Linked DNA regions of Homo sapiens. The protein of the gene in region 3 purifies or fractionates together with the protein of the main gene of each other region. This does not show direct contact. Each region holds a gene or a part of one and is shown on either strand. Other genes may lie near its edges.

The links.
Region 1: the proteins of PPP6C (region 3) and PPP6R3 purify together in Homo sapiens (affinity purification with mass spectrometry; 10 studies listed by BioGRID and IntAct, with this or other methods). This does not show direct contact.
Region 2: the proteins of PPP6C (region 3) and ARHGEF2 purify together in Homo sapiens (affinity purification with mass spectrometry; 4 studies listed by BioGRID and IntAct, with this or other methods). This does not show direct contact.
Region 4: the proteins of PPP6C (region 3) and ANKRD52 purify together in Homo sapiens (affinity purification with mass spectrometry; 6 studies listed by BioGRID and IntAct, with this or other methods). This does not show direct contact.

Annotation. Positions count from the first base shown.
Region 1 is NC_000011.10:68,610,729-68,615,839, reverse strand, and holds the end of PPP6R3 (serine/threonine-protein phosphatase 6 regulatory subunit 3), read right to left. Parts: intron 2,805-5,111; coding exon of another isoform or gene 2,775-2,804; coding exon 2,723-2,774; 3' UTR 1,209-2,722; coding exon of another isoform or gene 1,163-1,208; 3' UTR 506-1,162; downstream 1-505.
Region 2 is NC_000001.11:155,961,548-155,968,575, forward strand, and holds part of ARHGEF2 (rho guanine nucleotide exchange factor 2), read right to left. Parts: intron 5,341-7,028; coding exon 5,273-5,340; intron 4,933-5,272; coding exon 4,869-4,932; intron 4,214-4,868; coding exon 4,084-4,213; intron 3,866-4,083; coding exon 3,756-3,865; intron 3,585-3,755; coding exon 3,441-3,584; intron 1,637-3,440; coding exon 1,386-1,636; intron 1,172-1,385; coding exon 1,046-1,171; intron 676-1,045; coding exon 558-675; intron 363-557; coding exon 114-362; intron 1-113. UniProt on the Homo sapiens protein: Activates Rho-GTPases by promoting the exchange of GDP for GTP.
Region 3 is NC_000009.12:125,186,776-125,194,418, forward strand, and holds the start of PPP6C (serine/threonine-protein phosphatase 6 catalytic subunit), read right to left. Parts: upstream 3,029-7,643; 5' UTR 2,944-3,028; coding exon 2,869-2,943; coding exon of another isoform or gene 2,787-2,868; intron 2,173-2,786; coding exon of another isoform or gene 2,144-2,172; intron 1-2,143.
Region 4 is NC_000012.12:56,255,373-56,262,448, forward strand, and holds the start of ANKRD52 (serine/threonine-protein phosphatase 6 regulatory ankyrin repeat subunit C), read right to left. Parts: upstream 3,013-7,076; 5' UTR 2,898-3,012; coding exon 2,871-2,897; intron 2,540-2,870; coding exon 2,456-2,539; exon of another isoform or gene 2,098-2,455; coding exon of another isoform or gene 1,990-2,097; coding exon 1,911-1,989; intron 1,714-1,910; coding exon 1,643-1,713; intron 613-1,642; coding exon 412-612; intron 1-411. UniProt on the Homo sapiens protein: Putative regulatory subunit of protein phosphatase 6 (PP6) that may be involved in the recognition of phosphoprotein substrates.

The DNA.
Region 1 (5,111 bases), on a different chromosome or scaffold from region 3:
GCATGCAGAGGTGTGTACTCAGTGCTGTGTGAGATGCCTGTGGGCCCAGGCACGGAGGGATGCATGCGTGCCCAGAAAGCAAAAGGCTGTGCAGAGGACCTGCTAGGAGGTAATGACTAGAGAACATGTTTTTAAGCAAACAGGTGAAGGGAAAATGCAAAATAAGGAGCTACATAAGCATCACATCTTAAGAATCATTATGGAGCACCTAACTGTGACTTGTTGGGCTGGGAGCCAAACAACATAGGTGGGACACGCTGCACATAAAAGTAACAAGCTGGAGGTCCAGAGGAACCCTTGGAGCCGTCCCAAGACTGAGAGCCGGTGTCAGGCACCACCTCTTCTGGGCACCTGGGCTATGGCAGTGGGGAGGATGAGCCCCTGATCCCAGAGGCCACTCTCTCACACAGTGCAGTGCAGTCTTTCTCACACAGGACCTAGTGTAACACGGGACCTAATGGCAGGACACATCAACCCATTAAAAATCCAAGCAAGGTACAAGAGATTTCTAGAAACAAAGAATCAGGCTTTATTTTTGTTATTTTGAATACAGGTATTGTATTGTAGACATCTGTTAGTCTCATAATTCAGTATGGCCAACACACAGAAATTAAAAGTAGAAACAAAATGAGGGCACACTTGCTCCTGTCCTTGGCTTGGCCCCTCCAACCTCCAAAAGAACTGTCCTCCCCATTGTCATATCCTTTCCCTGCTACGAAAGACAAAACAAAATGATGCCCCAAAGAAAAGTCCCAGAGGCTCTCTCCCAGCAGTCAGTGGGATGAAGCAAGACACTGTTACCTTGGGTAGGATGGAGAAGCCACCAGGTCCATACCACAGAGGCCACAGTGGGATGGAGAAGCCACCAGGTCCATACCACGGAGGCCACGTGTGCCACCAGTGGAGCCAAACCCTGGCCATGGCTGGCAAAACTCACCACCAGGCGAGACCAGAGCATATTATCTACCAGTAATCCCCGAGGTCCAACGCCATTCAAGTCAGGCAGCCCTGAGGCAAGCAGGAGGAGCCCTGTCCTCTGGGGGTGCTGCTTCCAGAGGAGGCCCAAGGACAGTCTCTTCAGAGAGGGGCTCACCCGGGAAAGGGGGTTCCTGAGGAGGCGTGCAAAGGTCAAGGGACCCACCCTTGCCACCTGTCCCAGGGCTTACTGCTGACTCCACTGTCCTGGGAGTGCTGGAATCTCCACACCACTTAAAATGAAAAAGGAAATCAGAAATAATAAGGCATTAGACGTTTGATTCTTTTATTTCCATATGCAATGTAATGTTTAGGCACGCTGCTTGGGATGCTACTTCTAAAAAAATTGTTGGCCATTTTTCAGAATATCCTTTTGGTTTTAAATACTGGTCAGGAAAAACAAATGATGTAAAAATACGTGAATAATTTTCTATTACAGAAATGAAAAACTGATTTGCATCTAAAAGTGCAAGAGGTGAAGTAATTTAACCCTTTCACCAGACGATATGGCAATATACAATATATTGCTTGAGCTGTTTGAGAAGGCTGTGATGTATTTTTGTATTGACATAGAAAATTATAAATTACATTGAATTAGTATCCATAATCACTATATATATACACAAACCAGTTCTAAAAAAATACACTGGTTTAAATTTATGAGTGAAAACCTCACAAGGTACAGTAAACAATTAGCATGCTTCGGTGCCAGATTTTGATTTCTACTTTTAAAATACTAGCCTGTAAAATGAACGCACTCTAATTCCATTAGCAGCACGAGCATTTTCAACTGACTTGCCTAATAGGATTTATTTTAGGTCTGTTAAATATGCAGATTGCTCTGAAATGTTCATTGGTGATGCTTGTTAACAAGGTAAATTTTGGTGAATGGGTTAAAAGGCAGATGAACTACCAAATGAAACAAAAAAACAAACAAAAACAAAAGCCAAAAAAAAAAAAAAAAAATCCCAAAACACAAGCCATATACACTCCAAATAGTCTAGTGTTTCACTTGTAGGAATAATCATTTCAAGCAAACAAGACTTGAACAGAACATATGGCTTTACGATAACATCAATTTATCAACTATGATGTAGCAATAAATACTTTACTTAATCTCTACCAATAGACTTACATTTTTGATCCGTTTTAAACAATACAGAAAACAATTACCAATCAAAAACTGGTTATAAAAAGAACACCAAATATTTCTTATTCAAAATCACTTTTGTAAGTTAGAACAACCAAAATAACACTTAGAGGGCATTTTCATTCTACAACTCCTTGTCGGCCTGGAGGAAAAATGAATTCATAATTTTGTACAAGGTGAAAAATGTATGAAAACCGCCTAATACTTTGGTCACACTAATAATTGTCAAAGTTATGTTTCAAATACAATAGATCTGTGTATTCACTTTTATAAAACTATTCTTACAGCCATTTTAACTATAGTATTACTACTATTATTACATGGGTGGCAAGATCTTATTTCACAGGCTACCCATTATTTAGAACAATACAATATAAACATACGCAAAAATTCTTGGTATTTGTCAATGTGCAATATTTTTACACTTCTGAATTTCTCTGTACAATGTCTTAGAATCTAGAATATAAAGGTTGCTGGTCCTGATCCCTTGCAGAGTGAGTGCAGCAGTGACAGCTTGGTGGGCTCCAGCTGACCCCTCCAGAGCCCCTGAGTGGTGGCGGTCTGCAGTCCTCAGTCAGCAGCAGCAGACGTCACCCGTCATACAGGGCCATTCACTGAAGTGTCACCTGGTGCGCTTGGTTGGCCAGTCCTAAGGAGCAACAGACAGGCATCGGAGGCACTTGCAGCAGAAATATGAAAAACAAAACCTACTTAGCTGAGCTCCCCAAGGGCAGGGACAACTTATTTTAACATTGTTTTGAACTTAGTAAGTTTTTAATAAAATGATATGTAAATGAATGGAGCAAAAGCTCTAGAAAAATCTGAGTGAGTGCATCTAAGCTTCATCACCGGGTGAGCAGGCATTCAGCAAGGGCAGCAGCAGAGCAAATGCTCTGGGAGAACCGCCCCACCGCGGCCTCCAAGAAGCACAGGGAGTGACTAGGTCAGTGGGGTATAAACTGTGGCTTCCAGAGCCTTCAGGAGCTATGTGTTCACCGCTCCTTCAAGAAAGCTTTTATGTGACCCACAGATTGGAATCCACATACTATTTCACTTGGAAACAGGATTCTGCTACTAGGAAAGGGGGGAAAAAAGGAAAGGAAAGGAGGTTTGCAAATAAACTACTGGAAAAAAAAAAAAAGGTGTCCACTTGAAGAACATGTCCCACAAAGCAAATGTTAGGCTCAAAACTGGGAGGGAATAACAGGTGGGACAGTATATAACAAAGTGTCCAGGTTTTGCCTTCCTGCCAAAATTACAACCTGAATATATAACCTATTCGGGAAGGCTTGACCAAAATTGTATCAAGCAGACTTGGGAAAGGGTGCTTAGGGCCGTAACTGGGATGCCCACAAGCACTTTTCCACTAGCATTCACAATTTACAGCTAGAATGCTACTCATGCCTTATACCTGCTGGTTATACAGTGAGCCAAAAAGTCAGCTCTGCACACACAATCCACTCTGCTCACTTACTTACATCTGATGGTGGCTCCGTGTATGAGAGACATAGGAATCGAGACTTCTGGAACTAGACATAACTGGTATATAACTAACTTGCCTTCACTTAAACAAGCTGAGTGATCTTATAAGTAGATTTCTTAGCCCCTCTCAGTTCTGTTTTCTCCTCTGTAAAATGGGAAAAGAACCCTCCCCACGCCCCACAGGGCTTCACTAGTATACATATGAAATAAGTACATAATGTGTGCAGCATGCTCAGCACATCAGAAGCACAAAGGACATGCTTGATAAAACAGCTGTGAAAAGTGAGATCATGTGGCAATGCAGATCTTTAAGTGTGACAGGAAACAGCGCGCCTGCCAATCCAAGGAACTGTGGTATCTGGCTGGGACGGGAACCACACAGGAAAGACGGGTGAGCTTCAATATCCCATGCTGTCATACGTCACTTTAGAACACGTGCAATCTAGGACGCACTCTAGGTCTGCCCTAATGCCCACTCCAACGTCACCTCAGAGATCCTCTCCCCCGCACCCCAGCTCACATGGACCCCTGTCCCTTCTTCGTGGCTTCTTGATGAATGTGCCTCTAGTATGCCCCGAGACCACTGGGTGTCCGTGTGCTGCAGCTTTATGACCCGGCCTAGACCAGTGGCCACCACACACAAACGTGTGTCAGAGGAAAGAAGGACAGATGGATAAAGGCATGGACCCAAGTGATGCCCCTCTTCTTCCACTGGCTGACCCCATCTTTTCCTCCATCCCTTGGCCCGGCAGGTTAGGGCAGGGCTCTTCAGAGCAGGCATTCCCAGCCACAGAGGAGAGCAAGTGGCTTCCCCTTATGCAAACAATTCTTCTGTGCTCAGAAAGCCAAGGAAATGACTCCAGAGCCTTGTGCATCCTTATGACAGAGAAACCAAGAATATTCCCCTGAAGCAACTGCCCCAAACTGGGATAGACCTGGACGATCCTGCCTAGGCAGCCCTCAATATAAAGGAAATTTATAGGTAGAAATCAGAGAGCTGAAATAATTGATTGGGAATGAGACCTATAAAGGACCATTAAAAAATACATTGAAACCCCAAGAAAGAGAGTGACTTGCCCAATCCGTAGAAGCAGAGTTGAGGCAGCTTCCCAGTGCTAGAGGGCCACCCTGCCTCTTCCCCCAAAAGCCTTCACTAGAGCCAACATGCTCAAATAGTTCTTAATTTGTTTGTTTTATATGCAAAAAAAATATTTCTAATCACAAAAACAAAGGCTTTATTTTGGCTACAATTTCCACAGGAGGAACACAAACAGCTTGCTACACTGTGAATACAGGATTTTGGACCAACAAAGAGTGCTCCCTGCTGGTTCCCACTGGTTATGCTCTCATACAATGCTGGCAAGATTTGGGGGAGGATGGGGTGGGGGTGGGGGGTTAAAACTTCTCTGAAATAGCTTTAAAGGTCATTTTATTCCTTATGGAAGGAATATACAATCTTAGCTACATTTGTTCACAGAAGTTGATTGTGGGAAGTGCTGAACAA
Region 2 (7,028 bases), on a different chromosome or scaffold from region 3:
ACAGGCGTTGAGCCACTGCACCCGGCCAAGAGAGGTTGATTCTAAGACCTGCAGGCATCTCCCACTCTCCATCTGACTTTGAATTCCTGCCTAGTCTGCCGAGCAGGTCTGACCTTTGAAGCGCCCCGTCGCTGTCTTCCAGAGCAGGCAGCCATCGTGGATGAGTTTGCGCCTCAGAAGTTCCTCTCGGCCAAAGGGGCCCTTGCCAGGCACTGGGGTTTGGGCCCGAGGGTCCATGCGGTTGTAGATCTCCTGCAGACGGGCCCCTTTCTCCAGCTGATAAATACCCTCGTCCACATTGGACAGCAGCTCCTTCACTAGCCCCAGTGCTGTGGTCAGGTCCTGGCGCTCCTCCTCGATCCCTGGCACCGGGGGTTGGCATGGGGAACGGCTCAACCAGTTTCACTCACACCCCAGTTCCCATCGTGTCTTGATTCCACCTTTAGAGGCTGCCCAGGGTTTCACACCCGACCCCACCCTTCCTGTGGTCATACCGAGCCTTTCCTCACCCCAGGTGGCCGTCTCCCAGTGGCCCTCTCCTGGGCCTGCCTACTCACCGTGGGAATGCTGCAGGATGCGGCTGATGAGTAACGGGTACTTGGTGATGCGCTGAGTCACCAGCAGGATGCACTCCTGTACCCCGTGCCGCTTGAGCACGGCGGGGCGGGTCACTTTCTACAAGGGAGGAGGCAGGGCTCAGGGCCAGAGGGGAGGGCAACAGAAAGGCCTGGGGCCTGAGCTCTGGTGCTGGCCCTGGCGTGGCCATTTACCTCATGCTTGCCTAGGTGACATATCTGGAAAATGGGGATAACAACGCCACAGGTTTGTTGTGAGGACCAACTGAAGGAGCAAAAAGTACTTGGGAAACTACCACAACGTGCTCTAGCATTCTGAGGGGTTACTGCTGACAGGATCTGTGTATGGATGGTCTGCACGGGTGGCGAATGCCTGACCTCCATGTGGGTGCAGCTCACAGGCACTACCCCCATGAGTTGGGGAGGGTGGGTTTGGGCCATGAGCATGGGATCTGGAGAGGTCCGCTCACCCGGATGAATTGCTGGAAGCGTTTGTCTCGGGCGTACAGCTCCTTATAGAGCTTTAAGGCCTTGCTGTGGCGGCTGCAGAACTCCGAGTAGGTCTTACACATCTGCTCCGCACTAGGACCTGAGAACTAGAAGTTGGTCGAGTAAGGTTAGGTCAGCATTCCCCCAAAGCCACACTTTACCCACTGGACACACCTCTGGCCTCCTGCCAAACAGGCTGGCTTCCTGTTTCTCCAGCTCTCCCTGGCTCCCCTCCAACCCCTAGAATTTGGACCCAAGAAATGCCCAACCCAGTCACACCTCCTTCCATGAATGTCACCCAGGGGTCCTGCCTTTTCCCACCTGGCTGATGAGCAGATCACCCAAGCGATGGATGACAAAGTTCCGGGTGCTGCCAGGGCACAGGGCCTGGCGTCGGCGTTCTAATAGCTGGCTGAGGAAGCGTGTATGGATGTCACTGAGCTCGTCCACGCAGGGGAACAGGCCCTGGACCACTCCTGGCTCCAAGTGTAGCTCTTCCAGCATCCCCGTGCGGAAGAGGCGGGTCATGATCTTCAGTGTCCTCACATGGTGCAGCTCTGTCTGGATTAGCTCTGTGGGGGACATTGGGACATTTGGCCTCTACCCTGGCTTGGCTAAAACTCGTGGGGCCCTAGGATAAGGACCTCACAGTTCACGTGAGGTTTTCAAGGTCCATTCCAGGTTAATATTCTGCATTATTATGATCTTAGATACTTTTCTAATCATTTTTATCTTTTTTTTTTTTTTTTTTTGAGACAGAGTCTCACTGTATTGCCCAGGCTGGAGTGCAATGGCGCGATCTCAGCTCACTGCAACCTCCACCTCCTAGGTTCGAGCAGTTGTCCTGCCTCAGCCTCCTGAGTAGCTGGGATTACAGGCACGCACCACCAGGCCCGGCTAATTTTTGTATTTTTAGTAGAGATGGGGTTTCTTCATATTGGTCAGGCTGGTCTCGAAATCCTGACCTCGTGATCTCCCCACCTCGGCCTCCCAAAGTGCTGGGATTACAGGCATGAGCCACCACACCCGGCCCTCATTTTTATCTTTCAAAAATTTTATTATTATTTTTTTTTTTCCAGAAATGAGGTCTTACTCTGGTGCCCAGGCTGGAGTGTAGTGGCACAATGATAACTCACTGCAGCCTCGAACTTCTGGGCTCAAGCGATCCTCCTGTCTCAGCCTCCCAAGTAGCTGGGACTATAGGCACATGCCACCACACCTGACTAGTTTTTTAAAATATTTTTTAAAGACGGCTGGGCACGGTGGCTCACGCCTATAATCCCAGCACTTTGGGAGGCCGAGGCGGGTGCATCACCTGAGGTCAGGTGTTCGAGACCAGCTTGGCCAACATGATGAAACCCTGTCTCTACTAAAAATGCAAAAATTAGCCGGGTGTAGTTGTAGGCGCCTGTAATCCCAGCTACTTGGGAGGCTGAGGCAGGAGAATTGCTTGAACCTGGGAGGCGGAGGTTGCAGTGAGCCGAGATAGCGCCAGTGCACTCCAGCATGGGCGACAGAGCAAGACTCTGCTTCAAAAAAAAAAAAAAAAAAAAAAAATATATATATATATATATATATATATATATACATATATATATATATATATTTTTTTTTTAGAGACAGAGGTCTTGCTTTGTTGCCTAGGTTGGTCTCAAAATCCTGGCGTCAAGTGATCCTCCCACCTCGGCCTCCCAAATCGCTGAGATTATAGGCATGAGCCACCACGCCCAGTTCCATTTTTTATCTTTACACCTTATCATCTCAAGCTGTGAGCTATTTTAGGGTAAGAACCATATGTCTTCTACATGTCGAGGCTTCCCACAGTCTCCAGCACGGTGTTAAGCGTGGAACAAGCACAGAGTAAAGACTGAAGACAGAGATAAAGAAGGGATAAAGAGAGGGTGTTGGAGACCAACAGCATCAAGAGGTAGGGACCTAGTGGGCAACCTGTGGGATACCAGGCAGGGTCTTGTAGGCCAAGAGGGAAAGGGTTTTGAGAGGTAGGGGCTGGTAGAAAGAAGGACACAGCCGGGTACGGTGGCTCACGCCTGTAATCCCAGCACTTTGGGAGGCTGAGGCGGGCAGATCACCTGAGGTCAGGAGTTTGAAACCAGCCTGGCTAACATGGTGAAACCCCGTCTCTACTAAAAATGCAAAACTTAGCCAGCATGGTGGCAGGCGCCTGTAATGAGAATCGCTTGAACCTGGGAGGTGGAGGCTGCAGTGAGCCGAGATCATGCCACTGCACTTCAGCCTGGTTGAGAGAGTGAGACTCCATCTCAAAAAAAAAAAAAAAAAGAAAAAGAAAAATAAAGAAGGAAGTAGATAAACAGGACCTGGTGAAGGAAGAGGAAGACTAGGGTGGTCTTGGCTTACCATAGATGACATCTTGCTGCTTCATCACCTCCTTTTTATGCTGCTGCAGGAAGCTGCTGTCCACAGCAAGACTCCAAGAGTCAGCTGCAAAGTCCTTCTCATCCATCTCAAAGTCACTCATCAGCTCACTGTAGATTACCTCTGCTGGACATTAGCAGGGCAAGCAACTCAGAGGTCTTGAGTTCCCTTCCCTGGGTCCCTGGCCCTTCTCTAGATCCCTTCCCTCCTTGTCCTTCCAGGCTACTCCCACCAGCCTCTCATCCCCCAGCCCCTCTTCATGTTCCTCAGGGCTCCCCTGGGCCCAGGCCTGCTCACCTTCGTCAATGAGGGATTCCACGGATAGGGTTCGGTTCCGCATGTTGAGGGAGTCTGTGGACTGTGAGAGGATCCGGCGCAGCCCCAGGGGAGACTCATCATTGAAATGTCTGAAGAAAGTGGAGGCTGTCTGCATCACCCCCAGTCGGGCAAAAGATCCCTTCCCAGGTAGGGAACCAAAGCCAGGATCCAAGAGGCGGTCCCCCTAAGTTCTCCTTATTTGTCTGTCTACAGTTCTGAACTCAGGGATGGAAAGGGACCTCTCAGCACCCCCTTGGCCTCCACTGCCACACTCTCTGGCTGCCCCTTTCCCCAAACAGAGGCTCACCCAGCAATGTTGGTGGTAGAAACACTCTTGGCTAAAGACAAGGAGGAGCGGCCACGGCGGGAGCCCAGGAGGGACTGCCGGAAGCTGTCGGAGGGGTAGATGGCCGAGCTTGGCCGCTCCCGGATGGTTGCTGTGGGGGAGAGATGCCCAGCAGGCAAACATCAGACTCTGGTGCTTCCCAGGATTGAGGCCTCCTAGGCTCCTCAATGAGGAATGAGGCATCCTCTCACTCCACCTCAGCCCCTCTAGTCAAGAAAGATGGTAATGAGAATGCCACCTTACATTTGTGCCATACTCTAATGTTCACAAAGAGCTTTTTCTTACTTATCTCCTCCCTGACATAAGCCTATAAACAAACAGGAGCTCAGAAAGACAAAAAGACTTGTCCAGGGTGACTTGGGTAATGGCTAGGCAGGGACTGAGGCTCTGCTCTTTATACCTAAGGGCCATGCTCTTTCTGTTACACCAAAGCTGTCTGAATTGACACTTGACAGCTGCTACCAACACTCCCGAAATGCAGTGTAAATAACTGATAAAAATGCAGGCTGCGGCCAGGCTCAGGCGACCACCCATCCCCAGCCCTCATCCCCATTCGGACTCTCTCTCCCCTTCTGCCTCTAAGTCCAAGAGTCCGAACCCTCCCTTAGGCCCCCACTATCTGCTTCCAATCAAGAAGAGGAAGGTGCTATGCCTGGGAACAACCTTAGTGGGGCAGCAGAGCCCATGGGTTGAGCAGCCTGGGGTCCAGGGTCTTAGGGGACCTCCTCCACTCCCCAACTACTCACTCTTACTTCGAAGAGAAACGGACTGCAAGGCGGTGTTGTTCTTCAGCAGGGCCGCTTTCTGTTGCTGTGAGACAGAGAGCAGGAGAGAGATACCAAGAATGGCTGTCACCCAAGGATCACCCCCAGAGGCATGGGACAGGAGCTAGGTGGCCGGCCCCCTTAGGAGAAAGCTGGCACTATGGTTAAGGGGATCAGGGTGATTGAGCCCAGTGCTGTGGGGACATGTCTGCAGCAACAGGCCTGGCCTACTTGGGGCCCGAGGCCTGGGGTTGAGGGTCTGGGCTGCCCCTTGGTGAGGAGGTGGGTGGTGAGAAACACAGGGTAGGGAATGAATGGAAAAGGCATGAGGGTACCGCACACTCACTACCCTCTCCCCCAGCCCTCTGCCCTCCCTGCCGTCTCACCTTCTGCTTGACCTTGGTACAGTTGGCGAGGGTGTCTTTACAGCGGTTGTGGATAGTCACATTGCAGGCTGGGAGGGTGGGGTAGAGAGGGTGAAGGGAGGGCCGGGTGGTACAGGAGGGGACACACCCACATGCAGACACCCATCTCCTCCTGGCCACACAGTCCTCGGGGACTCTCCCCCCTTCCCCGACTTCTGGGCCATTACCACACCCCAGTCCCTCTCCTCCCACCTCCCTCTTCCTTCAAGCAGGAAATGAAGTGAGGGGGGTATAGGTGCTGAATGAAATTAAACAATCAAGTGGGATGGGCAATCCTGACCCCAAGGTGGCCTGAAGGGCGGACCAGAGGGGAGCAGGGGTCACTGGCTGCCAGAGATGAGCTCAAGAAGCACGAAGGTGGTTGCGAATGGCAGATGGAAGAGAGGACTCCCACAGAACAGAAGATGGCACAGAGGCAGCCAGAATGGGGGCTAGGGGCAGAGGGGAAATTTACATTCCCTGAGCTTTTATAATAGTAAATGTTCCACATTTACTTAATCCTAACCACCCGTAGAGGGAGGTTCAGTTATCCTCATTTCATGTATGAGGAACCTGTCCTGGAGTGGCTAAATCGTCCATCAGAGGTCACACGGCTAGTGGGAGAGGTGGTGTTTACACTCCGGTGGGCCTGAATCCAAAGGCCGTGCTCCTTCCCTCGCACCACATGCCCTGGACTCTGGCTGGGCCTCAGCAGCTCCAAGGCTGATTGATGGCTCCAGTGGTAAAGAAGGGACAGGCAACTCCCCACCAAGCCTGGCCTTCTCCCTTCCAGGCCCAGGGAGTCCTGTTCCCCCAACTCAGGCAAATCCACAGCTCCCACACTCCATCTGCTTCTCCGCCATCCTCCACCCCACCTTGCCATGGGGTAGGAGAGAAGAAGAAAGGAGGATTCGCTGAGCCTAGGCACTGGGACCCTGGCCGTGCCCTTCCCAGACATGCCCTCAGCTCCCGGCCCTCTCCAGCTTCCCCTCCCCCATCCAACAACACCGGAAACTCTGCTAACTCTTTCAGACAATACCCAGCACCACGCTCACTTCCACAAATACAAGGCAAACAGGGTGGAGCAGAGGGGGCAGACAGAAGTGGGGGTTGCAGCTGCCCCCACCCCCCTGGAGCTCCCTTCTCCTACCCCCAACACTCAGTGTCTCTGGATTGAACCTCCGCTTTCCACCTGCTCTCAAAATAGTGCTGCCCGCCTCCCCTGTTCCCCTGGCAACAAGCTTCCGGATTGGGAATTTTGTCAGGTCTCTATAGGGATCTAGATTGGGGTTCCCTCCTCATCCTCACAACTCTAAATTGAACAGTGAGGAAAGTAGGGAGGCTTCACTGGTTTTCTTTTCTTTCTTTTTTTTTTTTTTTTTGAGCGGTAGCAAGCTTTATTGTGAAGAGCAAAATGACAAAGCTCCCACAGCGTAGAAGGGGACCCGAGCGGGTTGCCCATCACTGGTCCTTTCTGGGGGTTCCTTCCCCAAGTTTCATAGGGATTTACAGGCTAGAGCTTTTGTCCGCTATTCAGTAGCAGGTCACAATACCTTCAATCCTGCTCTAATCAGAGGCATCTCTGCCATAACTTCAGGAGGAATTGAGGGAGAGGGGGCAGCAGGAGCCCTCTGTGTACTGGGGAAGGAAAGAATTCCTGGCTTATACTCCCTAAAGACAGGACTACACTCAGATGTGGATGAAGGGCAGGAATTCTAACCCCTGCCCCTCAACACAC
Region 3 (7,643 bases):
ATTTTTTTAAGAAAAAAAAAGAAACAAATACAAGTCAAGTACAATGCAGCTATGTTTCAACAAGAAATAAAATGGTCTAAAAATTGTACTTCCTTAAGGTAAGAAGGAAATCTAATGTTTATCAAACTAAGAGGTACAAAGAAGTCCAACAGATTTTTCTTTCTTTTTTTTTTTTTTTTTTTTTTTGGTGAGACGGAGTCTCCCTCTGTCACCCAGGCTGGACTGCAGTGGCGCAATCTTGGCTCACTGCAACCTCCGCCTCCCTGGTTCAAGCGATTCTCCTGCCTCAGCCTCCCAAGTAGCTGGGATTCCAAGCACCTGCCACCACCTCCAGTTTATTTTTGTATTTTTAGTACAGACGGGGTTTCACCATGTTGGCCAGGCTGGTCTCGAGCTCCTGACCTCAAGTGATCCACCTGCCTCAGCCACCCAAAGTGCTGGGATTACAGGCGTGAGCCACTGCACCTGGCCAGATTATCTTTCAAATCATTTCAGTGCCCAATTTCCTTTTCTTTTTTTTTGAGACAGAGTCTTGCTCTGTCTCCCAGGCTGGAGTACAGTGGTGTGATCCCGGCTCACTGCAAGCAATTCTCCCGGGTTCAAGCCATTCTCCCTGCCTCAGCCTCCCAAGTAAGTAAACTGGGATTACAGGCACCTACCACCATGCTCGGCTAATTTCTGTGTTTTTAGTAGAGAGGGGGTTTCACCAAGTCGGTCAGTCTGGTCTCAAACTCCTGATCTCAAATGATCTGCCCACCTCAGCCTCCCCAAGTACTGAGATTACGCCACTGTGCCCTAGACACATTTTCATAAAAAGCAACATTTTATTCATCATAAACACAAAGTTCAAAAAAGCTTTATGCATGATAAATAAGAAGAAAAAATTCCATGTCAATTCACTGACATGCAATAGTCAACCTCACCTATGGGATTAATAATGCTACTAAGAGGTCTGGTTAGTTTTCCATGAATTGGGTCCCAATGCTAGTTGTATTCTTATTCCCTTAAAAAAACCACATAGCAGAAAGAAGCCACAAAAGGAATGTCTGAAGGACTCAGATGAGCACAAATGCTACATTACTACTAACGAAGGCTGTCCTTATTTGAAATTATTCTATTAAAAACGGGAAAATGCACAAGAATGACTCCCCTATCATATGCCACATAAAATTAACAGGTAAGTACAATTCAGTCACATTCACAACAGCACGTGTGGCCTCAAATATTATGCATACTTGTTGACTGATGTTAAGTATCAACTTACTGTACAAAGAAGAAATAAAACAAAACCCACAGTAATATATTTCCTTAAGAATACACTGAGTCGGGGCTGGGCACGGTGGCTTACGCCTGTAATCCCAGCACTTTGGGAGGCCGAGGCGGGCGGATCACGAGTTCAGGAGATCGAGACCATCCTGGCTAACACGGTGAAACCCCGTCTCTACTAAAAATACAAAAAATTAGCCAGGCGTGGTGGCGGGCACCTGTAGTCCCAGCTACTCGGGAGACTGAGGCAGGAGAATGGCGTGAACCCGGGAGGCGGAGGTTGCAGTGAGCCGAGATGGTGCCACCGCACTCCGGCCTGGGCGACAGAGCGAGACTCCGTCTCAAAAAAAAAGAATACACTGAGTCGGTTAAATACTAGCACGAGCTGATAAGCACTGCTAGAAACCTAAGCTCTGATTTCAGCAAATGCATAGAAACACTTTTCAAAGAAGCAGTATACCTAGGCCGGCGCGGTGGCTCACGCCTGTAATACCAGCACTTTGGTAGGCCGAAGCGGGCGGATCACTTGAGGTCAGGAGTTCAAGACCAGCCTGGCCAACATGGCGAAACCCCGTCTCTACTAAAAATACAAAACAGCCGGGCGTCGTGACGGGCGCCTGTAATTCCACCTAGTCGGGAGGCTGAGGCAGGAGAATCGCTTGAACCCGGGAAGTGGAGGTTGCAGTGAGCCAAGATCGCACCGCTGCACTCCAGCCTGGGTGACAGAGTGAGACTCTATCTCAGTTAAAAACAATAATAATAATAATAATAATAATAATTAAAAAGTTTTAAAAAAGAAAAGCAGTATACCAAAGTCATTCCTTTACCCATACATACATTTACTCTTACTTGGACTCAGGAGTAACAAGGAACTCACCTCCTTTAGAAAACGAAGAAAATGAAATACTGAGTTAAGAAGGGGTTAAGGAGAAAGTATTTGTATTTATTGAGAACCAACTACTTTATCCACTTCAGTAAGCTCAACAACATACTCAGAAACGGGATTCACCTCTGAATTAGCAAAACCGACGATCCTAAAAAGCAATTTGGAGGAGTGGCAATGAAGAGGGACGACCTGACGTTCGCTCCCGCCAGTACCAAACCACTCGGGCCCACCGCCTTCCCCTTCCTCAGAGACCTAAACACACTGAGGCCGCGTTCCGGTAGCCGGTGGCATCTCCTGTCAGACGCCGGCCACTCCGCGCTCCTGTCACCTCCGGTGGAGGCGACCCCATCCCGAGGGCACTGCCGCGGGGGCTCGGCTCCGACTGCGGGAGACCCAGGGATGGGGTGGGGAGCCGAGCCTTCTAAATAAAGCTGTTACAGCTGCGGGTCCTGGGGCAGCCCGAAGGCCAGAAGGGGCGACCCTGGGACAGAGGCCGCGACATCCCTCGGGATCCCCACTGAGGCAACCGGGACAGCATTCGACGACTCGGCTCGCGAGACCCTCGGCGTGACGCCGGGTAGGACCGGGTCGACTGGCAATGGGGGAGGCCCTCCACCGCGACTGGACTGGATACCCGGCGGGGGTCCTGGAGAAAGGAAGGGCCGGCCGGCGGGCGCCCCACAGCCGGAAGGGGCGAGCCCGCAAATAGGGCTCACCTTCAGGTCGTTCTCTGGCAGGTACTTGCACAGCCGCGCTATTTCCACATACTTGTCCAGGTCTAGCGGCGCCATTTTAAGAATAACAAGCCGCGGCAACAGCGGCGGCGGCGGCTGTAGCAGCGGCGGCGGCAGCGGCGGAGGCCGAAGCCGGAACTTTCCCTGCGTCACGTCCGGCCCGTGAGTGGCGCCTGCGCAGCGCCGTTAAAGCGCGACCCGTTTCTCCCCGCTACGTCGGTACGCCCGGCGCCCCCTCTGGCTGAACCCCGACTGCAGGCCCCAAGAGAGCCCGCTTCGGTCCACCCCGCGAAACCTGCTGGGACCCGTAGTCGTCTGCCGCGGGGGTGCTGGGATGTGTAGTTTTCTGTTGTGGACAGCCACCCCTCTCTTTTCCTCCCGTTCCTCCAGACTTTCACCTCCCGGCAGCCGGCGAGGCTTTTCCGAGGCAAAACAGCGGAGTAGGTGGTCCTAGCCACTCACTGGTTTGTTTTTCCAACCCTTTTAAGCACTCTCCAGAATATCTTCACTTAACAATTGGGTAAGCCTGGCCGTAGTAACCGTTTGCACCTTTCCAAGTCCCTGTGAAAACCTCGCCTAAGCCTGTGGCAGAGATGTCAGGCCCCAGTCTTCCAGCCTGAAAGGAAGGGAAACGAATATTATTAAAGCATTTCTGATGCTAAATGCGATACAAATGATATTTTTCCTTTTAATCTTCGTAACGATTGATAGGAAAGTGAGGCTAGGAAACTGCAGTTCACCCCAAATCTCACAGGGAACAAAATGGTGGGGTCAAGATTGAAAAATGGCTTAAGCTTAAGCATGCTTCCAGTGAGAATCCCACGAGGGCAGGGAGTTTTTTGCTGTAACTCCAGCACCGAGAACAGTACCTGGTACTAGCATACCTTCAGCGTTCGTTTATCCAACCACTCTTTGCTGAGCAACAAAGATGTGCCAGGTACAGCTCAAGGCGCTTGCAGTACTTCGTGAACAAAATAGACAAAGATCTCTATTCTATCTGTAGCTACAAAAAGTACCAAAATTAGCCTGGCGCGGTAGTGCGTGCTTGTGGTCCCAGCTACTCTGGAGGCTGAGGCAGGAGAACCGCTTGAGTTGGGAGGCGGAGGTTGCAGTGAGCTGAGATCGCGGCACTGCACTCCAGCTTGGGCGACAGAGCGAGATCCTCCTCAAAAATAAATTAGTAAAAGGAGCTGCTGTATGGGACTAGGGGTGGGGGTGCAATGCCTATAGCTAAGAGACCAGTTAAGAGACTGTTATGTAATCCAATAGTAGCAGGCGCTCAATAAATATTTGTTGCTCAAGAGACCCTGGAATTAATCCTCTTGCTCTCTAAAGTATATTTTGTGGACAATTGGCTAACCCTGAATGAGATATCTGGGTGAACTTCTTTGTATTATTCTTGTAACTCCTCTGAAAGTATGAAATTGTTTCAAAGTAAAATTAATTTTTAGAAGTTTGTTGCAGAATGAATGATGCCCACAAGCATTCATTTCTTCATTCATTAAACTAATAGTTACATAGTGCCTATTGGCCAGGCCGCGGTGGCTAATGCCTGTAATCTCAGCACTTTGGGAGGCCAAGGCAGGCAGATCACCTGACGTCAGGAGTTCAAGACCAGCCTGGCCAACATGCCGAAACCCCATCTCTACTAAAAATACAAAATACTGGGGAGGCTGAGGCAGGAGGATCACTTGAATTGCTTGAGGCAGAGGTTGCAGTGAGCTGAGATGGCGCCACTGTACTCCAGCCTGGGCCACAGAGTGAAACTCCATCTCAAAGAGAAAAGAAACCAGAGGTTACACAGTGCTTATGATGTGAATAAAACAGATATGATCCCTGCCCTAATCAGGCTTACAATCTGCTGGGAAGAGACAAACAGTATTTATTTATTTATTTACATTTACTGGTTTATTATTAATATAAAGGATATTACAAAGGATACAAATGAAGAGATGCATAGGGTGAGGTAATTAAAATTTTTGTTTTTGTTGAGGCCGGGTGCAGTGGCTCAAACTTGTAATCCCAGTAGTGAAGCCAAGGTGAGCAGATATCTTGAGGCTAGGAATTCAAGACCATCCTGGCCAACATGGTGAAACCTGATCTCTACTAAAAATACAAAAATTAGCTGGGCATTGTAGCACATGCCTGTAATCCCAGCTACTCCGGAGTCTGAGGCATGAAAATTGCTTTGAGGTGGGGGTTACAGGGAGCTGAGGTCGTGCCACTGCACTCCAGCCTGGCCAACAGAAAAAAAAAAAAAATTGTTGAGGTGAGGTCTTGCTGAGGCTGGTTTTAAATTCCTGGCCTCAAGCTATTCCGCTGCTTTGGCCTCCCAAAGTGCTGGGATTATACGTGTAAGCCACCATACCTGGCAGTGAGCAAATATTTAATTGCAAATTGTGATTAGTACTCAAAAGGGAAAATAGGAGGTACTATAAGCAAGAAAAATGGAGTAGACGAGGTCTACCTTTGGCTGGGCACAGTGGCTCACGCCTGTAATCCCAGCATTTTGGGAGACCGAGGCGGGCAGGTCTTTTTGAGGTCAGGAGTTCCTGACCAGCTGAGATCCCACCACTGCACTCTAGCCTGGGAGAGAAAGTGAGACCCTGTCTAAAAAAAAAAAAAAAACAAAAAACTACATTTTCTTACCTGTACTTGTGTCCTTTGGGGGAAAAAAAAGGGCCCAGCATGGTGGCACACGCCTGTAATCCCAGCACTTTGGGAGGCCGAGGCGGACGGATCATGAGGTCAGGAGTTTGAGACCAGCCTGGTCAATATAGTGAAACCCTGTCTCTACTAAAAATACAAAAAATTAGCCGGGTATGGTGGTGTGTGCCTGTAATCTCAGCTACTTGGGAGGCTGAGGCAGGAGAATTGCGTGAACCTGGGAGATGGAGGTTGCGGTTGCAGTGAGCTGAGATAGCGTCATTGCACTCCAGCCCGGGTGACAATGCAAGGCTCCGTCTTAAAAAAAAGAAAAAGAAAAAAAGAAAGAAAGAAAAAGAAAAACTTAGCCTGGTGTGGTGGCACGTGCCTGTGATCCCAGCTACTCAGGAGACTGAAGCAGGAGAATCACTTGAACCTGGGAGGCAGAGGTTGCAGTGAGCCGAGATCGCACCACTGCACTCCAGCCTGGACAACAGAGCGAGACTCCGTCTCAAAAAAAAGAGGCCTACTTTAGGTTGATAACACAGAGGAGGTAAAGTACAGGATGTAGCTTCTAGCACCATGTGGGCAGAGTTCAAATACAGGCTCTACCACTTATTGTGTGATTTTGGTTTGGAGAAGTTATTTATCCTTTCTGTACTCCAGTTTTCTCAGCTCCAATATGGAGATAATAATAATGCTTACCTCCTCTGGAGATTGTAAGAATACTACTTACCTCATAGGCTTGTACAAAGGTTTAACAGAGTTGGTATATGAAAATGGCTTAAAACAATGTCTGGGCCGGGCACAGTGGCTCATACTTGTGATTCCAACACTTTGAGAGGCCAAGGCAGGAGGATCACTTGAGCCAAGGAGTTCAAGACCAGACTGGGCAACATAGTGAGACCTCATCTCTACCAAAAAAAAAAAAAAATTAAAATTAGCCAGGTTTGGTGCTGGCACATACCTGTAGACCCAGCTACTCTAAAGACTGATGTGGGAGGATCACTTGAGCCCAGGAGGCCAAGGCTGCAGTGAGCTGTGATTGTGTCACTGTACTACATCAGGGTGACAGTGAGACTCTGTCTCAAAACAAAAAACAAAGACAAAAAAACATTGTCTAGCACAGAGTGAGTGCAATATGAGTGTTAACTCTGAGTATTAGGTGGGCAGGAAAGGCATTTCTGAAGGTGTAACATGTAAGACTTCAGAAAAAAAAATGTAGGAGGCTGGGCATGGTGGCTCACGCCTGTAATCACAGCACTTTGGGAGGCCCAGGCGGGCAGATCACTTGAGGTCAGGAGTTCAAGACAGGCCTGGTCAACATGGTGAAACCCCGTCTCTACTAAAAATACAAAAATTAGCCAGGCATGGTGGTGCATGCCTGTAATCCCACCTACTGGGAAGGCTGAGGCAGGAGAATCGCTTGAACCCGGGAGGCAGAGGTTGCATTGAGCCGACATTGCGCCACTGCACTCCAGACTGGGTGACAAAGCGAGACTCCATCAAAAAGAAAGAAAGAGAGAAAGAGAGAGAGGGAGGGGAGGGGAGGAAAAAAAGGCAGGACAGGTGCAATGACTCATGCCTGTAATCCCAGCACTTTGGGAGGCTGAGGTGGGCAGATTGCTTGGGCCCAGGAGTTCGAGACCAGCCTGGGAAACATGGCAAAACCCCATCTCTACAAAAAATATAAAAATTAGCCGGGCATGCTGGCATGTGCCTGTAGTCCCAGCTACTCAAGAGGCTGAGGCGGGAGGATTGCTTGAGCCCCAGAGGCGGAGGTTGCAGTGAGCCAAAGTTGTGCCACTGCACTCCAGCCTAGGCAACAGAGTGAGACCCTGTCTCAAAAAAAAAAAAGGAAAAAAAGGTAAAGGGATAATCTGCTCAGAATTTCTTGGAGAAAAAAATTCAAATGGAAGAAGATGCTGTTCTTGTTTAGATATTTTTCTTTTTTTTTTTTTTTAGAAACTGATGTTTATGGCCAGGCACGGTGGCCATAAACACACACACCTGTAATCCCAACACTTTGGGAGGCCAAGGCGGGCGGATGACGAGGTCAGGAGATCGAGACCAACCTGGCCAATGTGACGAAACACCGTCTATACTAAAAA
Region 4 (7,076 bases), on a different chromosome or scaffold from region 3:
GTAGAGACAGGGTTTCACCATGTTAGCCAGGATGATCTCGATCTCCTGATCTCATGATCCACCCGCCTTCGCCTCCCAAAGTGCTGGGATTACAGGCGTGAGCCGCCGTGCCCGGCCGGTTCTTAAACTCTTGTAAGTCTTTGCAAATGTGCTGAAAGACATGGACTCTCTTCAGAAAGGCGTGTATGCAAATATTTTCCACGCAAAATCCAAGGTTTTATCAACCTCCTGAAGTCCAAGTTAAGAATTTTAATCTAGTCTGACCATTCATTTAGTGCTTCAGCTTAAGTGTTTATATAACCATCCGGGCTGCTTCTCCTTCAGGCTTGAGGGCCCAGAAGCAGGGAAACGTGAGTAGGAAGGTAAGAAAAGGGAAAGCCCCAGCTGGGCCTGGATGGGAACAGTCCTCACCTCAAGATGCCCACTATGCACTGCATGGTGCAGAGCACTGCGCCCGCTCCTGTCAGCCACGTTGAGGCTGCTCAACAGGGGTGCCAGAGCCTCAGCACACTTGGTGGCCCGGTTGGCAGCAGCCACATGCAGTGGTGTCTGCCACAGCTTGTCCCGGGCATTCACATCTGCTGAATGTGCCAGCAGCAGCCCCAGCACCTTCTGTTGAGGGGCAGGGGACAAAAGAGAGAGTGGGAGCAGGAGGTAAAACAACAGGAAATGGAAGGAGGAATAGGTCAGCATAGCATCTACAGCCCCTTCCCCAGCACAGAATCTCTTCTCATTTTTCCAACATACCTAGCCTCTGAATACCTACTTTCCATCTTCTGGATCTTCTTAGAACTTAAGCTCTTCCTTACCTTGCTGATTAAAACAAGGACCCTTTGCTCTTCTTCAAGCCACCTGACTCGCCAACTTAGACCCTGAAAATCTTCACTCACACATACATCCATTCCCAAACAAATCCACATGTGGAGATCCACACATCCCAACCCCCTACTACTTCTAGGAAAACTAAATGCTCTTGCTACATCTTGCCCTGAACACCCTCTTTAGCCTTCTCATAGGCACCAAAATTATTTTCAGTATCTCAGTAAGCAAACAGATACTGGTTCGTTTGCAAAACCCGAGCTAAAATGCCCCTCCTAACCACCACCCACCTCATTCCCACTGGCCTCGGCCCCTCCCCCTGGTGGCTGGAGCCAGGGAAGTGATGAACTGAGGAGGAGGTCCCCCTTTCCCTGTCTTCAGGGCTGATGGGAATAGGATAAAGGACCCAACTGATGAAATATGTTTGGCCCCTGTGCTGTCAACTTTCAAGCTGCTTGAGGGCCAAGGATGCAACAGATTACTATACCCATCCTCCATCACAAGGAAAAGAAATCTCAGTGCCCAGAGGGGGATCAGACTCAAGGTGGCCCCCCAGGGAGGGATGAGTCACTCAGGCCTGGCAGCAGGGCCCCCGCAGTCTGCCAGCCCAGTGTTAAGCTCTTCCTGAGTCACATCAGCTGGCAGCACTCAACCCCCTTACTGGCCAGTTCTAGGGGTAGGAGGAAGGGGCCAAGATTTGATCTCCTCACTACCTGGGGTAGAACAGCTTGTAGGGCTGAGGACTGAGGCTCCTTAACCCTTAACCCCCACCTTTAAGCAACTTATCCTTTTTGAAAGGGTAATAGAAGGTGGGGGTGCATACCTCGTTTCGGGAGGCAGCAGCACGATGAAGAGGGGTCAGCCACAGTGTGTCCTTAGCATTGACATTAGCACCTGTGGGGATATAATTTCCTATTTTGATGGAAGGTGGGGAGGAGGTATGAAGGAAGCCAGTAATCAGGCCAGGAAATCTGAATGGAGCTGGAGCCTCGCCTGGACCAAGCCGGGGAGAGCAATCCTTGAATATCAAAAAAGACTCCTCCCCTCCCTTCGCTCCCTATGTGCCACACCTTCCAGCTCCCCACTTTCACCTGACATCAGTAGCAACTGGAGGATGGGGACATCGCCTACGTAGGCAGCAGCATGCAATGGAGTTCGCCTCTCTTGGTCCTGGGAAGGCAAAAAAGAGCAGGGAGTATGGGCGCGGGGTAAGGGGGCTATCAAGGACCCCAGCCCAAGTCTCAGAGCTCCAGGCCCTTCCCCACAACCTCTTCCCATAGTTTCTGCAGCGTCCTAAGTCCCGGTATTGGGAGTCAAAGGCAAGCACCTAGGGAGGGTGGAGTCAGGGCCAATGGGCTGAGAAGCCGGCTCCTTTTTCCAGGAGGGGTGGGGGCGCTGCAGACTCCGGAGGTTGAGAAGAGAACAACGTTCCTGGGCATTCCCAGCCCAAGTGATCTGGGCTTCAAGCCTGACCTGCTCTCCATCCCCAAATGCAGAGTAGGCTTTCACTCCAGGATGGAAAGAACTGCGGCCTCATCTGAGCAGAGGAGACACGGAGCCGCCCCACCGGTGGGGAGGGGTCCAGAACACGGGAGCCAGGATTCCGGTCTCGCCATCCTCCCTGCTCCCAACTCACCAGCACATTGATGTTCTCCTTCTGCGAGAGTAGGGAACGCACTTCCTCCACATCTCGGCTAAAGATGGCCTGGACCAGGGGCGGCTGCAGAGAGAACCGGCATTCTGAGAGCGGGCTGGAGCCGGAGCGGAACCGGTGTGGGGGTGGGGGTGGGGGAGCACCTAGGTTTGAGTGGGGGGCGTCCGTGGAGGGGCTCCACTCTAGGGATTCTGGCTGGAGCGAGCTCCCGCGGTGCCTCCGCCGGTTGCCAGGTCCCCAAGGACACCGGCTCGGTTGAGGGGAGCGCGGCATGGGGCGGGGCGGGAGCTGCGGGAGCCCCGGGCTCAGGCCCAGCCTAGGCCGCACATCCCCGGGCTCGCGTGACGGCAGCGCCGAGCCCTGGAAGGAGGAAGCGGGAAAGGGCAGGAGGGCTGACCTGGTCCGTGATGCTGAGGATCCCCATGGCTCGGCCCGGGCTCCGTCCGCATCGAGCTCCCGGCGGCGGCGGCGGCGGCTCCACCGGGGACACGGAGCGGCCCAGGCGGCGGCTGCGGTGGCGGCTGCAGGGAGAGCGCGGCCCCGCCTACCGGGGGGCGGGCGAGTTGGAGGCCGCAGCGCTCCCTGGCGGCCGTCCTGGTCCCGGCGCTCCCCGCGCAAACGGACCCCGGCCGCAGCGCCCTCCGCCCCACCCTGGCGGCCCCAGCAGCCCCTGCACCCCCGAACTCGCGCGCCGGCTCCCCGGCTCACGCAGCTGGCCGCGCTGTGCTCTCCGCTCCAGTCTGGCGGCCCAAGGGGTTCCCCACAAGACCCTAGCGGAAACCTGGGCCTTAGTCCCGCGGTGCTTCCCAAACTGAGGACCGAACGGCTGGCCAGATCTTACCCAGCCCACAATGCTCCCGCCCGAGCTAACTCCTCCCGTCAGCGATTCCACACCCCGAAATCCCCCACAGACTAGGAGGAACTGGCGGGTGGAGAACTGGGAATTATGTATGGCAATAGCCCCAGAGGGAGGGAAAGCGTGTATCTCCACTGGCGGAGGCGTGAGTTCGGTAGAGAAGAAATAGCAAAAGTGCTCAAACTGCAGAGAAACCCCAAGGAGGATTCTACTGCAGAAAACACCCACAAAGAGGCCATGACAACTGGCAGCTGGAAAAGGCCGCCAAGACCAACAGAAGGGGCATTTTCCAACTCCTTACTGATTCCATTGCAAGGTTAAAGTGGAAAACACTCAACAATTTCTCCCCAGAACAGCCTGTGGCGCTTCCCCTCCTCCAATGGAGAGGCCAGAGAGCCGTCAATTAGAGAAGAAATGAATGGAGGTCATCTCAACCCAGAAACGGAAAAAGGAGGAAGACGAAAAGTGGAGATTGAAAAATTGATACAATTTATAAAAGGTGATCCAGGGTCCTGTTCAGAGTTTCACAACTCAATACACATTGAAGAGAACACGAAATGGACGAAGTGCAGCATGCTGGCGTCCTGTCAAGGCTTTATATATAAAAATCCTCCCTTGAGGGGAGAGGAAAAAAATTAAAAAATAAAAATACATTTTATTTTATTTTTTGAGATGGAGTTTCACTCTCGTCCCCCAGGCTGGAGTGCAGTGGCACGATCTCGGCTCACTGCAACCTCCGCCTCCCGGGTTCAGTGATTATCCTGTCTCAGACTACCAAGTAGCTGAGACTACAGGCGCCCGCCACCCTGCCCGGCTAATTTTTTATTTTAGTAGAGACGGGGGTTTCACCATGTTGGTCAGGCTGGTCTCGAACTCCTGACCTCAGGTGATCCACCTGCCACGGCATCCCAAAGAGCTGGGATTACCGGCGTGAGCCACCGCACCCGGCGAAAATACATTTCAAAAAAGCCTTCCCGGCCGGGCGCGGTGGCTCACGCCTGTAATCCCAGCACTTTGGGAGTCCGAGGCGGGTGGATCACGAGGTCAGGAGATCGAGACCATCCTGGCTAACACAGCGAAACCCCGTCTCTACTAAAATACAAAAATCAGCCGGGCAGGGTGGCGGGCGCCTGTAGTCCCAGCTGCTTGGGAGGCTGAGGCAGGAGAATGGCGTGAACCCGGGAGGTGGAGCTTGCAGTGAGCCGAGATTGCGCCACTGCACTCCAGCCTGGGCGACAGAGCGAGACTCCGTCTCAAAAAAAAAAAAAAAAAAAAAAAAAAAAAGCCTTCCCATTCCCAACATGGTGAAACCCCATCTCTACCAAAAATATAAAAAAGTAGCCTGGTGTGGTGGTGCACGCCTGTAATCCCAGCTACTGGAGAGGCTGAGGCAGGAGAATCACTTGAACCAAGGAGGCGGAGGTTGCAGTGAGCCGAGATGGAGCCACTGCTCTCCAGCCTGGGTGACAGAGCCAGACTCCATGTCAAAAAAAAAAAAAAAAAAAAAAAGCCTTCCCTTGCTTTCCTGCTAGAAAGATACTTAAGACACTAGTAACAGTCCTTTTTTCCCAGAAAGAAAAACTGGGGTACAGGAAATAAGGAATGAGAGAGAAATTTACCTATCACTATATACCTTTTGGAATTTTTTAAATTTTTACCATATTGAAAATAAAAGTTAAAATATTGCTTAGGAGCAATCACTCCGTGATTCCATGCACACACAAAAATTATGAAGAAATTTAAACTTACCTCTTCCAGGAAGTCTCCTCTGGCTAATAGGCTCTTTTCCTTTTGTTAGTTCTCCTTAACACTTACATACTTAGTTTATACTGCCACAATCTGGTTAAATTGTACACCTTTGTTTCTCATTTCACCTTTTTTTTTGGAGACCAGTGTCGCTCTGTCGCCGCCCAGGCTGGAGTGCTGTGGCGGGATCTCGGCTCACTGCAAGCTCCGCCTCTGGGGTTCATGCCATTCTCCTGCCTCAGCCTCCCCAGTAGCTGGGACTACAGGTGCTGCCACCATGCCCGGCTAACTTTGAGTAGAGATGGGGTTTCACCATGTTAGCCAGGAGGTTTCAATCTCCTGACCTCGTGATCCGCCCGCCTCGGCCTCCCAAAGTGCTGGGATTACAGGCGTGAGCCACCGTGCCCAGCCAGGTATAGTTTTTTTTAAGCTCCAGAATATCAGTATAGAGAAACAGGCATTTAATATTTGATGACTGATGATGATGATGAAGCAGCAGCAGAAACCAAAGGTAGCAAAGGATCAAATGGATATGGGTGTTGGGACTTGGCTATTGGGTATGATGGGCCTTCCAGGAAGGGCTAAACTAGGATATGGCCCAGAGGATAAGGAGGAGGGGCATACATGGTATCCATTGCCCAAAATAACTCTAGGTAACCTGAGGAATTGGAGTCAGGGGTTCAGCTGGGGTCACGTGCCCGGTTCTGGCTAGGGGATGGAGGTGAACAAGAGAGGTTGCCAGCCTGGTTCTCTGGGCAATTGGAGGGAGGAGGACGGGCTAGAAGAGTTATTTTTAATATTATTTAGAGCATCAAAAGAGGATTTCCCAGTAGGAAAAAAAGGGATTTGATGTAGGGAACACTGATACTTTCAGGGCTCAGGGAGACACACAGGGTATGGGAGGAGGAGGCCAGAAGTGGTGATAAAACCTTCTTATATGGACAGTCCTTCTGGATTGAACTACAAGCATTCATATTTGGGTAACTCTAGACAGATGGCTGCCTATTTTTAAGCCTCAGTTTTCCTTCTTCTGACTAAATGTGAGGACTCACCCGATGTACAGCCCTGTACTAATTGGTCGGGAGGTCAAAAATTAGAAGTAATGGTGTCTCTTTATGAGGAGCTTATAACTTAGTAGATGAACATACATATACATGTGAAACAACTACAGAATATAGGATACATGCTAGATTACATGGCATTATGTGTTCAGAGTAATGTTGAAGGAAGGGTTCAGTCAAGAGGGTCTTCCTGGAGGAGGTGTGTTTTGAGTCAGTACTTGAAGGAAGTTATTGATGTAGAATGGTGGAGACATGGGAAGAAATCGGTTGTTTCAAGTATAGGGACTAAACTAGGAAAGTTTAAATGGCAGTAATTAGTTAAACCAATTAGTAGGGGACAGTAAGCAAATTGGCTTGGTAGGCCTGTTGGACCTTGGGGATTCTGTAGCAGTCAACTTGGTTAAGGCAGAGTGATAATGAGGTCACAGTTCAGTTATGTATCCCTGTTAATTTCTGTCTTTTAACCAACCAGATCCTTACTCCTCATTCAAAGCAGCTGTCTCACATGTATAAGCCCTTAGTCAGAGGCGGGTGGGGCTGGACAAGACAGTGGAATTCGAAAGAGTAAATCTGTCCTTTAAGGTCATGTGCCCATCTGAAGGTGGCTCCAGATTACCATTTGTGAACTGGAAGGAGGCACTGTACTACAGTAGTGGAAAGGAGGACTGGGGGATGTGGACATTTTAACAGACTCTCTCTGGAGTGCAGAGGCGAAAAGAAGAGATGTTAGGAAAGAAAATAAGTGAGATCATCACCCAACTTGGGGTATCACGGAAGAGGATAAACGGAAAGGTGGCGGCCGGGCACGGTGGCTCATGCCTGTAATCCCAGCACTTTGGGAGGCCAAGCAGGTGGATCACCTGAGGTTGGGAGTTCAAGACCAGCCTGATCAACATGGAGAAACCCCGTCTCTACTAAAAATACAAAATTAGCCGGGTGT